Linked DNA regions of Homo sapiens. The protein of the gene in region 3 purifies or fractionates together with the protein of the main gene of each other region. This does not show direct contact. Each region holds a gene or a part of one and is shown on either strand. Other genes may lie near its edges.

Region 1 (3,500 bases), on a different chromosome or scaffold from region 3:
TAACAGAGACATAAAGACTCAATTTTTTGGCTAACATTGAAATGTCTCTTTGTTCAATAAGTAAACAAATTATATTTACCATTTCTAAATCAATTTTATTGCCACTACTTCTAGTTGAGATTTATGTAGTGGGGATAAAGCTATTCTCAGAGGTAATTCATTAATTCATTAGCCGTAATGCTCTCATAATTAAAGAATGCAGAGACAAAAACACTGGCTATTGTCTGGATTGATGGGATACGTGGGTGGGGGCCCAGGAACTGAAAAACACGTTTTTTCTCCAACGAGATTAGCCAGCCTGAGTACCAAGTTGATATATGAAAAGGAACAGGTTTGTTGGCAAAGTTCCTCTGGGAAAATATGTACATCATAATAACTTAAAAAATAATACGTTTGAATTTCATATATTTAGAAAGAGCCAAGGGTTACTGCTCTGGGGTTTTCATAGTTTCAATAAGAAACCAGATAAATATCAATGTGCAAATGAAACAGAAGTTGGTATGGCAAATTTTATATATCTGGCATAAAACACTTAAAACTAGAATAATAGATATGTTGAAGGAAAGGAAGCGTTATGTAAATTTAGAGAGCACTGATCATAAGAAGGACATACAAAGAAAGTATAAGGTTTCTAGGATTACTCATCCTGTCTAATGTTTATCATTCTAGTGTCTCAAAGAACTTTATAACCATAAGCCTACTACTATAAATATAGAAACACCAATAGCTTTCCAGAACTTGGATGGAACAAAGGAACTTTTGTTTTATCTTAATTACTTTATTATTATTATTATTTGAGACAGAGTCTTGCTCTGTCACCCAGGCTGGAGTGGATTGGCGCAATCTTGGCTCACTGCAACCTCCGCCTCTTGGGTTCAAGCAATTCTCCTGCCTCAGCCTCCCAAGTGGCTGGGATTACAGTGCTGTGCCACCATGCCTGGCTAATTTTTGTATTTTTAGTAGAGATGGGGTTTCACCATGTTGGCCAGGCTGGTCTCGAAATCCTGGCCCCAAGGGGTCCACCCACCTCAGCATCCCAAAGTGCTGGGATTACAGGCATGAGCCACCATGCCCAGCTGTTTATTTTTAATGCAATTGCAGTGTAACTTAGCATGCTTTTTTGGGCATTACAGTTGCCTTTTATGAAGGATTCAGGATCAGACTTGAGTGGGACTGATGATAATCTCAGACTACAACAGAGGTAGGGAAGACAATGGATTGGAGCAAAAGAACATGGGAGATAGAAGCTGGGAAAAGTCGTTATCAAAACAATGATATTTTAGACAAATATTAAACTCTAAAGATAAGAATTTAAAAGTATATAGGGAGACATCCAGATGTCTGCTATTTACTTTGAAATATATATACAGAAAAGATGGATTGATGGACGGATTGAGTAATGGGCAAACGGATAGATACGTAACAAAAACAAGCAAAGTAAAATGTTAATGTAGGATACAGGTGGTAGGTTGAAACTTCTTTCAAATTGGTTGCAGCTTTGAAAAAATTTCAGCATTAAAGATGAGATGTATGTGGAAACATGGACATTTCATATATTATAGTGTTTTATTGGAAAAATAGCACCAATTGCCCAATTGTTCACCTCTCTCTCATAATATGTCTTCATAGCTCCTCCTATTGTTTACTTCCTTTTAAAAAAAAGTCTGAGCTGCTCCTGTGATTTGCTTTCACCAATAGAAGAAAAATGACTCCATGCCAATTCTGGGCCTAGATCTCAAGAGACTTATATACATCCACTCTTTTTTGTGGAACCCTGCCTGTGCTACAAAAACAAGTCCAGGCTAGCTAGCTGGAAGATGAGAGACCCTATGGAGCCAGGTTGAATCCTTCCATCCCAGAGCAGCAACTTCAGTGAGGAAGTTGATGGCAGACTCATAAGCAAGCCCAGCCATGATCAGCAGAGCCCAGCCCTGATCAGCAAAATCACCCAGCCAACCTGCAGATTTGTGAGAAGTAATAAATGGTTGTTGATTTTAAGCCACTAAGCTTTGGAAGAGGATTGTTACACGTTATTATTGTGACATTAGGTAACTGATACAGCATATATAATCTCCAGGAACTCAAGGCATCAAAAAGGAATAATTATGACATTATATATCCTTTTCAGAAGTAGAATATATATATATTCTATATATATCTATAGATACATATAGCGACTTATATTCTATATATCTATATATAGCTACATATATACTATGTATAGAATGTATATATATCTATAAATATATTTAGATATTTCTCATAAATATATATGTGAAAACAATTCCCCGCAACCCAATTCTAGCTTTTTTTTCTGTTTCTAATTTTAGGCAGCCACATTTTACATTTGGGATTATTGCCCAAAAGTTATCACTGCCATCTGCAAATCATAGCAATTATTGAATTAGTTCCATTGCCTATAATTTGGTTAAAAAAAAATTTTAGTGTTGTTTTTATTATATTTCAAATAAATCTGACATCATTCAAACCTTACCTTGAGTGGTCAAGAAGTGAAGATTTTTATTGCCCAGCCAATATTCACCATGTTTTTGGACAAAATTTCCAAAGCCATTTTCATAGTCTTTCCATCCTCTAAAAAAGGTAAAGTGGAAGCCGATTAGAGCAAACTCCATTTGTGGTACCAAAGCGACCACCACCCACCCCCTGCTACCACCACCTCCAATATTTTCTTGATTAGTTAATTCATTTTCAGTATTCTTCTTTAGAGAGATTGAAATTCTGTCTAATTAATAGGCTTCAGGATATGATCAAAATATTTGACTTATAAATCTCACATTTGCTGCTACATATAAAGTCTTACATCATAATTAGCACACCTGTTAAAGTTTTCACTGCCATCAGATCGTCTCTGAATTACAGTCCATCCTCCTCCATCGGACATGTCACAATAAACAGAAAATTCTGCTGGGCTCTGGAGAGGTTTGATTTTGTAAAATCCACTGAGCTTATACCCATCATTGAAAATCTCTGAACAATCTGTTTTTAAAACAAGGTAATGTAACATTCATTATGTGTCTTTTTCTCCCCCCGCCTTAGGGAGCCTCTGAATGAGACTACTCAGTATCACTGGAGACAGATAACACATGGTATAGAAATCAGCGTTTTAAAATTGCATCTTGTACATCTTCCAGTGGATATTAGGAAAGTTTTATTTCCTTTGCTAAAATTTGCCACCTGAATCCTTGATATAATCATCGAGGAAAAAAGGGGAGTGAAATAAGAATCTAGTTTTTTGTTTCTTTCTTCTTTTTTCTTTTACATTTTTTTTAAGAAATGGGGGCGTGTCACTATATTGCCCAGGCTGGTCTCGAACTCCTGGCTTCAAACAATCCTATCCTCCCACCACAGACTCCCAAAGGGCTGGGATTACAGGTGTGAGCTTAGTTTCTAATTTCTGAGTTTTGTAGAAAACAATCTTAAAAAAAACAAGTTATGAGTAGTCTGTTAATAACAGTATATTTAGGTGGAACTTACAGTTT
Region 2 (3,500 bases), on a different chromosome or scaffold from region 3:
CTGCTGTGGGGGCAGTGCCCTCTGTGCCTGGGCACCTGGCAGAGCGCCCTGCCTAATGCAGGCCCTCAGTCAAGGTGAACTTCCACGTCCCCCCAACTCCCGACGTGGCACACACATGCGCAAACACCATCACACAGGACAAGGAAAAGGGCTCAAATGTGACAGCATATTCACTTTTAAAACACCTGGGCACGCGTCCTTTTCACCAAGTCTCCTGAACACACAACCGGGTGCCACTGGAAGTGATTCGCAGCGCACCTGCCCTTTGTTAATACAACATCACCTTGCTCCATATCCTACCAAAGATCCCCTGGAATCTGGAAGGATCTACTTCACTCGATCCCTCCACAGTCAGCAGGACAACTTTATTCCAGTCTGGGGGACGCCTTACCCGCAGGAGCTGCCAATCACTGCAGACGAAGATGCTCACGTAATCTTTGCAGTCGCGCCGTTCTGCCAGCGCCATGTAGCGGCCGTCCCTGGTGAAGGTGATTCCTGTGGGAAGAGGCAAATGCACTGAAATCAAGCGGCCACAAAATCAAGCAAGAGAAACCACAGTAGTAATTCACAAGGAAGGAGGAGGAAAAGAAAGCAGAGGTGAAAAGAAGGGAAATGGCACAATGCCGAGCACTGCTCCTCAGACAGACAAGAACATTCTAGCGCAGAGGAGAAACCCAAGGCACGGTGCCTTCACCCTCACAACGCAGTGTGTGCTGGGGGAAGCTGTACACACACAGGAGCCGGTTTGCAAGGCTCTGTCAAAAATACCAAGTGATGTGACCTCTGATTAATCACAAATATGAGTGAGAAACACAGGCCTTCGAGTCCCCCCATGTCTAAGCTGCGGGACACCCAGGGCTATCTCCAGCTAGGCAAAAGGCAGCTGGTTCCTACCATATTTATTTTACCTTTGAATTTAATTATTTGGAAGAAGTAAACTGAAGATGAAAATGTGTGGCCAGGCATGGTGGCTCACGCCTGTAATCCCGGCACTTTGGGAGGCTGAAGCAGGTGAATCGCTTGAGCCTAGGAATTTGAAAGGAGCCCAGACAACTTGGTGAAACCCCATCTCTACAAAATATCAGCCGGCTGTGATGGTGTGTGCCTGTAGTCCCAGCTACTCAGGAGGCTGAGGTGAGAGGATCACTTAAGCCCAGGAGGTCGAGGCTGCACTGAGCTGTGATCGTGTCACTGCACTCCAGCCTGGGTGACAGAGCAAGACCCTGTCTCAAAAAAGTAATAATAAGATGAAAATGTGGAAGAAACTTTAGTTGAAAATGTTAAACTCTTATTTTCCAGTTCTGTATTAGCTTAAAAAGCCCTAGGCCAGAATTCATCATTCCTGAGTGAAAAGAATACCTCAAATGACGAAACCACGGTGTCCACTCCTATCAAGAGATATGTATCTCATCTGGAGGGACGCTAATATTCCAACTATAAGAATAAGAGTGTGACTGCATTGCATTCAAATGCAATTTCCAAACCGCTGGCAGCAACAGAGAAAAATGAAAGCATCATTCCAACTGTGTATGTTTCATTCCGCAAAAAGACAGTGCGGTGTCGTCCAGGACTCAGGAGTGGCACCTCCCACTAGCTCTGCGCGGTCCAGTTAGACGCGCTGGCAGTGGGCCACCCTGCGCCGGCCCCCTTTCTTCCAGATGGCTCACAGGCTTCCACAAGGAAGGGACACTGGTCACATATCCCTCTGGGATGCCCAGAGATGACAGGCAAGACCTCCCCCTTTCGCAGACATCATATTTAGTCCACAGAAGAGAGAAAGCTCAGAACTGGATGCCTGAGGTGGGCCTCTCAACAGGCATCGGCTGGAAGGGGTCTGAACGCCCAGCTCTGCCGCCAAGGTCAAGGGGACCGGCATCAACGCCACCGTTCTTCCATGTCTTAGGCCACGTTGTCTTGAGTCACTGTGGTCATGTTTTAAAAGGGGACTCTTGCCTTTTTGAGACACATATGGAAATATTTACAGATGAAGTATGAGGAGACCTAAGGTCTCCTTTAAAAGAGCCCAAGGGGGTTGGCTATGTGTTGATATGCTGCTGAAGCTACTTCTGCCTCTTTGAAACTTCCCGTGACAAAAAAGTCAAACAGCTGCAAAGAAATGGCTTTTGCGTGGCTCCGATCGACTCACCCTGCAGACAAGCTTTCGGGTATTTGATGTAAGACACGGATTTTGTGCACAAGGACCAGACGGTTATCCGCAGCTGTTGGGGGAAAGGGGAAAGAGAAAGGAAACACTTCTTTAGCATCATCAGAGACCGTCTCAATCCTCAACCCGCCCACGCGTCCCCAAGCACAGGCCTGACTGCTGGAGTGGATCTATCAGGACCTGGGGGATGCCTGCCCTCCTACCGGAATATTCAAATGCGTATTTTACTGTGGTTACGGTAAATTTGGTGTTCTTGGTTTTCTGTTGTTGTTGTTTTATACCAAAATTGAGTGACACAAAGTTAAATCCAAGTGCTTTTTCATTAGCTTTTTCAAAGTGACCATAGGTTGCATGTTATAATAACCCTGAGTTACTCAGAGAAAAATCTTGATCTAGAAACCACCACGGGTTCAGTCTCCTTTATGGGAAGACAGAGGATCTGGAGATTGGATGCAGCCACTCCGGGACTCACCAGGGGGCTGTGAGCCTGCATCTGCAGCCCTGAGGCAGGAGCAGCCACTCAACACCCAAGAAGGTGTCCGTCTGCCTCCTGCGTGTGCTCGCTGGCCTGGCTGCATCTGCAGAGGGTTCTAGAACATGCGCTGCTGGACTGTCCACTTTTCCACCCCTTTCCCTGACTCAGGGAGCTGAGAGCTGACTAGGCTGGCACAGTGAGGCCAAAAGATGATTTTCTAACCAGGCCGACGAGGGCGTGCCTGCTGAGGGAGAGGCACCGCAGTGGGTGGTCCAGCCCTCCCCGTGGCAGCGCCGCGGGACTTCCAGGGCTGCTGTGTCCCTCCACCTGCATTTCCCACTGAGACCCCGTGGAGCCTACCAGGGAATCATCTTGCTTCCCACATCCCCGGCCCACTGATGAATCTGGTAGTTAACTGAAATATGGCCGAGGTGCGGGGACACAAGGTGCGGGGTGGGGTGCTGACTGCCAGCTCCGTGTGTGGGGACACAGGGCTGCGCAGCTCCATGTGGGGTGGGGTGCTGACTGCCAGCTCCGTGTGTGGGGACACAGGGCTGCGCAGCTCCATGCGGGGTGGGGTGCTGACTGCCAGCTCCGTGTGTGTCAGGCAGGGGTCCTCGCTGAGGATGAGGCCCGGGGTGGGGGACCGTCTCCAGCAGCGTAAGTGGGGCCGCAGCGTGTGGGGCACAGCATGTCCACAGTGTCACTCCTGCAAACGCTGCCAGGTTGTCAGTATAGGATATTAACAAATGATTTAATTTAAATGTCTACGCATCATCTCTTCTTACAACAGAAAAGAAAATCTGATGTCTGTAATTGTTTCTCCAAACAACATATACAGCGTTCAGGAGAGAAGTCCTG
Region 3 (3,500 bases):
GCAGCACCCAGGGGCTCTTCCACAAAACACCAGTGGCAGCAGAAGTCAGACCAGAGTGAGGGAGCAGGGCCTCATGGCTGGCAGGCACTTGTGGGGAGTAAAATGTCCCCAAACCAACTCCCTGAATCTCACCCATTCTACAAGAAGGATACAAAACTGTGCTCACTGGCACACAGAGCACCCAGGTCTCAGCCACCAGAGCTTTGTGATACCCCACCTCTGGAGGGCCTCTCTCTGATCTTGTAGGTGGGCAGGGCTACTCTACACTGTCCAGCGATAAATCTCCCCTCAGTGCCCATTCAGCAGAGTAGTTCAGGTCTCAAAAGGATCATTTGCAGTTCCGCCTGTCCCAGACCCCTGTATTTGCAAACATATGTCGAACTCTTCCTGCATGCCAGGGAAAAAAAATAATGAGCACTTCCCTCAACAGGTTTACTGGCTGGTGTAAGAGTGTGAGTTTAGTGGAATTAGGACATAGCCATGGGGTGCAGAGTCAGAGAGACGAGAGCTCTGTTACGTGTCCTGGTGAAATGAAGGTACCTAAAACAGTGTAGGCACTCAGAGTAACAGTTCTTACTATTACCAACATCATCAACATCACCATCACTAACACCACCATAAACATCATCACTATCATCACAGTCATCACCGTCATCATCACTATCACCAAAGCATCATCACCACCATCAGCATCATCACCATCATCACAGTCATAACCATCATCACTGTCATCATCACCATCACCATTACCACCATCAACATCATCACAGTCATCACCATCACCATCACCACCATCAACATCACCATTACCACCATTAACATCATCACCACCATCAACATCACCACCATCATCAGAGTCATTTACCATCACCATCACCAACATCATCACAGTCATCACCATCATCAGGGTCATCACCATCACCATCAACATCATCACCACCATCACCGTCATCATCCACCATCACCACCATCAATATCACAGTCATCACCATCATCATCATCATCATCATCACCATCATCACTGTCATCATCACCATCATCATCATCAGTCATCACCATCATAAGGGTCATCACCATCAACATCAACATCATCACCACCATCAACATCACCATCATTACAATCAACACCACCACCATATCCATCACCACCATCAATATCATCACAGTCATTACCATCATCACCATCACCATCATCATCACCATCACCATCACTGTGATCATCACCACCATCAGCAGCAGCACCACTATTATTATTATGGTGCTGGTATGAAAGACTTTCTCAGGAAATACTTAGCCTTCACATATAATTTTCATCTCATAAATAATGCAGGATGCACAGAAGTCCCCCGGAGGAGCACAGGGCAATGCTATTCCCAACTCTCTACCACAAGTGGTGGTCTTTCTCATAATGAGGACATAATCTGCAAATAGTGAAAGATTCTGGTAACTTCAGGATGCTGAGGTCTCTGTGACAAACCTTCATCCACAGTCAGAATTAAGAAAGTTGTGTAGCAGTTTGTGTCCAGGGATGAGATGGAAGGCAGGCCAGCAAGAAGGGGCTCATGTAGACATAGTGCTCTCAGAACTTCCAGTCTATGGTTTCCCCTTGTGAGCGAGACTCAAGGTAGTCTCCAGTCAGTCAGGCAATGCCACACTATCTATGGGGCTGAACCTCATGCACACAGATGTGGAAATGATGCCCCTTGCAGGGTTAGGTGATGGTACCATTCTGGGCATGTCATGAGCCTTTTGGACGTGCCAGAATCCTTCCTATTCACACATGGATCTAAGCTGAAAGAGGAGGGCTCCAGCTCAACAGCCCTGGTCTCCTTTGGCTGGCTGAGGAGACGGATATGGATTGAGGGATCTAGGACACCTTCAAAGTGCAGGCACTCCAGCAGCATCCCCAACCTTCTGACGATGTCCCAGGGACTCGGAACTAGCTGCTTTGCTACCACACTTGTACGCGTGTCCCTGCTAGGATCTAGTAATTTTTGTTTTCTGCCGCTTGCCAAAGTAGCCATTTCCTATTGAGAAATGTCAATACTGAAATTTAAATTTTAAAATCAAAAGAGTTCCAGTGTTTTCTATACCTGCTAGTGAGGGAAGAAACAATTCCTTCCTTGCTTAGCTGCAGTGCCTGAGAGCTACAGAAGTAAGCAATAATTTTTTTTTTTTTTTTTTTTTTTGGGCCAGAGTGCTTGCTCTGTCACCCAGGCTGGAGTGCAGTGCACGGTCTCAGTTCACTGCAATCTCTGCCTCCTGGGTTCAAGTGATTCTCCTGCCTCAGCCTCCCAAGAAGCTGGAATTACAGGCATGCACCACCATGCCTGACCAATTTTTGTAACTTTGTAGAGACAGGGTTTTGCCATGTTGGCCAGGCTGGTCTTGAACTCCTGACCTCAGGTGATCTGCCTGCCTCGGCCCAGTAAGCATCTTTTAATGGGATTTCTATCAGGTCAGAAAGTCTTGGACTGAGATCCAAAAGCCTGCCATGCAGGCTGTTCAGAGACCACCTCTACACTGTGCAGGCTTTTGACACTAAATGAAGTGCAAGTCTCAAGGCTTGCTCCATCTCCCAGCTTGGTGCTTACCTAGCACAAGAGGCACGTCCTGGAAGAGGAAGCGGAGCTCCCAGGAAGGGCATGGCTCACTCTGCCCTGTTTCCAATGCTGCGGCTAACCCTTCAGTGTCCATTCATCACTGCTCATGGACAGTTGCTCATGTGTGGCAGGGTTCCTACAAGAAGGTCACTTCCCAATTTTAAAAAGCTCTGGGGAGACTGGTAACCAGTTTTGCTTATACCTAATCTTCTGACATCTTTTTAGTTCTGAAGCTATGAAAAAAATGGACCAATGGCCCCAGATGCCTGTCAAATATGAATAGATTAATAAATACTTTAAATTTGTATTGTCAATACCCAAATATGCACTGAATTTTACTGGTCTGTTGTTGAGATATGAAAGTCCTTAGACTTCAAAATGATAATTAAATAACTTTTATAATAAAACGCATTAAAGAGTATCTAAAATCAAAATCAAAATGTGTTATTGGGCTGGGCGCGGTGGCTCATGCCTGTAATCCCAGCACTTTGGGAGGCCAAGGTGGGCAGATCGTGAGGTCGGGAGTTCAAGACCACCTTGGCCAATATGGTGAAACCCCATCTCTACTAAAAATACAAAAATTAACCAGGCATGGAGGTGCACGCCTGTAGTCCCAGCTACTCGGGAGGCTGAGCCAAGAGAATCATTTGAACCCAGGAGGCGGAGGTTGCAGTGAGCCAAGATTGTGCCACTGCACTCCAGCCTGGGCGACAGAGCAAGACTCCATCTCAAAAAAAAAAAAAAAGTGTTCTCAAAGTAACGAGTTTGGCTGGGAGCAACGGCTCATGCCTGTAATCCCAGCACTTTGGGAAGCCGAGGGGGGCGGATCACAAGGTCAGGAGATCGAGACCTTCTTGGCTAACATGGTGAAACTCCATCTCTACTAAAAATACAAAA
Region 4 (3,500 bases), on a different chromosome or scaffold from region 3:
TTGACTAACTATCTGGGTCTCAAAGTTTCTCTTGGAGTATAATTCAAATTCCTGAAGTGTCCACTACATGATATAAAATGCTATTAACTATCAAGGAATTCTATCCAACTAGTATTAATATACTGTCACACTAACAAGAGCTGGATTTTTTTTTTGGCAGAGGTTCCAGAAACGCCAGATTAGGAGATATCTTCTTGCAGCATGCAGCATAGCAGCCCCTGCCCCCTCTCACCCAGTCCCCCCACCACTTACCGCTGCTCTAGTGTAGTCCCCAGTGGCCAGGGAGCCGGTGGAGCTCATTTCCGCAATAAGGAGGCACCCCCGATGCAAAGGCAGGCCCACTTCTTGCAGGCCTTTCACAACTCCTGAGCCTGGCACCACGTGAGCATTTACTAGATCTGCCCAGGAAGCTATTTTAAAGATACCTCCTAAGAAGAAGGGGGAAAAAAGATATTTGCTGATTTTCAAACAAAACCTCTAACGTCTTGTCCAACCAACCAACTACAATATGAAATAATCTCCCAGTAACATGTTAATGAGAGAATCAAAACTCTTCAGGAACTTTAGTGATTATCAGCAGACCCATGGTTCCATCTGTGAAAACTGTATCTGTTATTCAGGTAAGTAGCTGGGTGAGAGATCACAATGAGAAAAAACTTTCAAGGTCTGCACTTGGCTTATCTGGAACACTAACAGGACTCTTTTTCCTTGAAGGCTGAAGCTCATGACCACAAATAAAGCTCATGCTATTAGAAAGGGACTCCAGTGAAGATAAACATTTATTGATGTCAAGGATAACATTTAAAAATTCCTCTTGAAGCTGGGCATGGTGGCTCATGCTTGTAATCCCAGTACTTTGGGAGGCTGAGGTGGGCAGATTGCTTGAGTTTAGGAGTTCGAGACCAGCCTGGGCAACATGGCAAAACTCCATCTCTACCAAAAATACAAAAAAATTAGCTAGGTGTGGTGGCGCATGCCTGTGGTCCCAGCTACTTGGGAGGCTGAGGTGGGAGGATCACTTGAGCCCAGGAGGTGGAGGTTGCAGTGAGTCAAGATTGCACCACTGCACTCCAGCCTGGGCGACAGAGCAAGACCCCATCTCAAAAAAAATAATAATAAAAATAAAATTCTTCTTGAAGATGACAAGTTTTCACTCTGCAGGGGTCTCTCAGCAGCTTTACTATCGCTCAATATTTCTACGTGTTCCTTAGATCTCCTTAGCTATCTAATTTCAATAGGCAACTATATTCCTTTTAAAAGCGGACAGTAACAAGCCTGATTTTCGAAAAAACTCTATGCAGAGCTGAAGAAAGTTTGTATAAAACTCTTATGTCAGTCAATCAGCTAAAGTAAGCTAGGCAATGTGATGAGGGCAGGACATCTTAAGCACATGAAGAAGTCACTTAAAGACAAATCTATTTTAAAGAAATAGCTTATGAACATGCATACATTAAAGAAAAGTTACCTCAAAGATGCCTACAAAAAATGTTATATGACACAACCAAATATCTGTTACCAGGTTAAGTGAAAAATGCATTAAATATAGTCTGATCACACAGTTGTAAAAACATAGACAGAAATTTGCATAGAATAGGCAGTAGAACTAAGCATTTTTCTCAACCAACACATGCACTACTTTGAGTCCCTATTTGATAAAAGAAAAATCTTTAAATAATGTTTATCAATAGAACTTTTTCTGCTACAAATAAATCTTACCATTTTATATTTCTTTTTCATTGTTTCCTTTATGTGGAATTTTCATTCAAAACATCATATTCTGCCAAGGACATCTGTCAAATTTGCTTGCCCAGGCACATACCCTTCTTCTGGTACTAGCACATCCATTTTCTTTAAGGAAATTATCCCTGACTGGTTCTTATTTCAAGAAGGTCATACAGAGTTAACAACCTCACAGTTGCAGAGCAAATTGCCCAGGCTAGTTAATGAAGGTATTCTACATCCCAAGCTAGAGTGATTGGTTTGGGGTGAGCATGCAGAGTATGCCTACCTGAGAAAGAAGTCAACAGAGAAGAAAGCAGAGCTGAGAGATGGAGAGAAAGCAAGTCATGAAGATATCACTTGAGCTCCTGGATCCAACCACGCTTGACAGCCTGCTCTATGAATGGACTTTCAATGACATGAGCATTTCCTTTTTCTTCTTCAGTTTAAGCTGGATTTCTGATTCTTGCAGATTCCTGAATAATACACTTACCTTCATACTGCTTTTTCACTGTGTTTCCTATATCTGCAAACTTCCGGTCTTCAAATATCAAGAACTCATGGCATTTTGCCAGAGTTATCAACTCCTTCATCACATCCAGAGTAAAATCATTCAAAATATCTACATGAGTCTTCAGCATGCAGATACTAGGTCCTAAAGCATCTGCTAGCTGCAACAGCTCTCTGGCCAGTGAAACATCAGCAGATAGACACAGATTGGTCTCCTTCTTTTGCATAAGCCTGAGAAGCTTCGATGCAACTGGGTGGATCCTGGGCAGCTCTGCACGTGCACCGAAGCTGAGTTCTTTGGGTGCTTCCTTTATAGAAAGGGGAGAACCATTATGATTCGCTGCCACAAAGACATTCTCCTGAATAAACCTCTTCACTCTCCCAACTGTCTCAGCATCAACTTTTTTCTGCTGCTCGAGAATCTCCAGCATTTTGGACAATGTACACACTGAGTGGAGGCGGATCCCGTGCGCCTGCAACTTGTCCTTGCCTCCCTGCTCTCTGTCCAACAGCACTATGGCATCAGTGACCTTCAAGCCCTCCTTCTGAAGAACCTCAACAGTTTCCAAAACACTAGATCCACTGGTGACAACATCTTCAATGATTAAACAGGTTTCTCCTGGATTAATAGTTCCTTCTACAAGACGCTTAGTTCCTAGAAAAGAAAAAATTTTGCTGATTCCAAATTTAAATATGTATGTATATGTGCGTATATACGTACACACACTCTGTATACAAAACTTGCCAGTTACACATACAGTATATGTGTATACCAATTCTGTATACCAAACTTGCTAGTTGCACATACAGTATATTTATGTATAAAGCCAACTCTGTATACCAAACTTGCCAGTTACACATACAGTATATTTATAGTAAATCAAGTAAATTATTTCACATTATAAACACTGCTTAATGTGTTTTATGATCAAATTTTCAAATAGAGAGGTTTTTTTTTTACTTTAAAAAAATCTGTTTTATCATAGAGATGAGGTCTCACTATGTTGTCTAGGCTGGTCTTGAACTCCTGAGCTCAAGTGATCCTCCCGCCTCAGCCTCCCAAAATGCTAGGATTATAGGTGTGAGCCACCACGTCCAGCCTAAATACAGAGTTTCTTACAGCAAGATCACCTAGATCAAGGAAAGTTATGAAACAGAATAATCCAGTATCATGAATGAAATAATTCCTTTTTCCATCAAAGTATTTTAAGTTCACTATTCAAGATCAGCCAAATAATTGACTTTTTGAAGACACAAATTCAGAAGGAAAA

What was found.
Region 1: the proteins of TNS3 (region 3) and FGL1 purify together in Homo sapiens (co-immunoprecipitation; one large-scale study listed by IntAct). This does not show direct contact.
Region 2: the proteins of TNS3 (region 3) and WRAP73 purify together in Homo sapiens (co-immunoprecipitation; one large-scale study listed by IntAct). This does not show direct contact.
Region 4: the proteins of TNS3 (region 3) and UMPS purify together in Homo sapiens (affinity purification with mass spectrometry, with the first as the bait; one large-scale study listed by BioGRID). This does not show direct contact.

The regions. Positions count from the first base shown.
Region 1 is NC_000008.11:17,871,525-17,875,024, forward strand, and holds part of FGL1 (fibrinogen-like protein 1 precursor), read right to left. Parts: intron 2,998-3,500; coding exon 2,838-2,997; intron 2,593-2,837; coding exon 2,495-2,592; intron 1-2,494. UniProt on the Homo sapiens protein: Immune suppressive molecule that inhibits antigen-specific T-cell activation by acting as a major ligand of LAG3. Responsible for LAG3 T-cell inhibitory function. Binds LAG3 independently from MHC class II (MHC-II).
Region 2 is NC_000001.11:3,636,604-3,640,103, forward strand, and holds part of WRAP73 (WD repeat-containing protein WRAP73), read right to left. Parts: intron 2,220-3,500; coding exon 2,147-2,219; intron 496-2,146; coding exon 392-495; intron 1-391.
Region 3 is NC_000007.14:47,362,112-47,365,611, forward strand, and holds part of TNS3 (tensin-3), read right to left. Parts: intron 1-3,500. UniProt on the Homo sapiens protein: May act as a protein phosphatase and/or a lipid phosphatase. Involved in the dissociation of the integrin-tensin-actin complex. EGF activates TNS4 and down-regulates TNS3 which results in capping the tail of ITGB1.
Region 4 is NC_000003.12:124,736,952-124,740,451, reverse strand, and holds part of UMPS (uridine 5'-monophosphate synthase), read right to left. Parts: intron 2,885-3,500; coding exon 2,213-2,884; exon of another isoform or gene 2,009-2,212; intron 429-2,008; coding exon 253-428; intron 1-252. UniProt on the Homo sapiens protein: Bifunctional enzyme catalyzing the last two steps of de novo pyrimidine biosynthesis, orotate phosphoribosyltransferase (OPRT), which converts orotate to orotidine-5'-monophosphate (OMP), and orotidine-5'-monophosphate decarboxylase (ODC), the terminal enzymatic reaction that decarboxylates OMP to uridine monophosphate (UMP).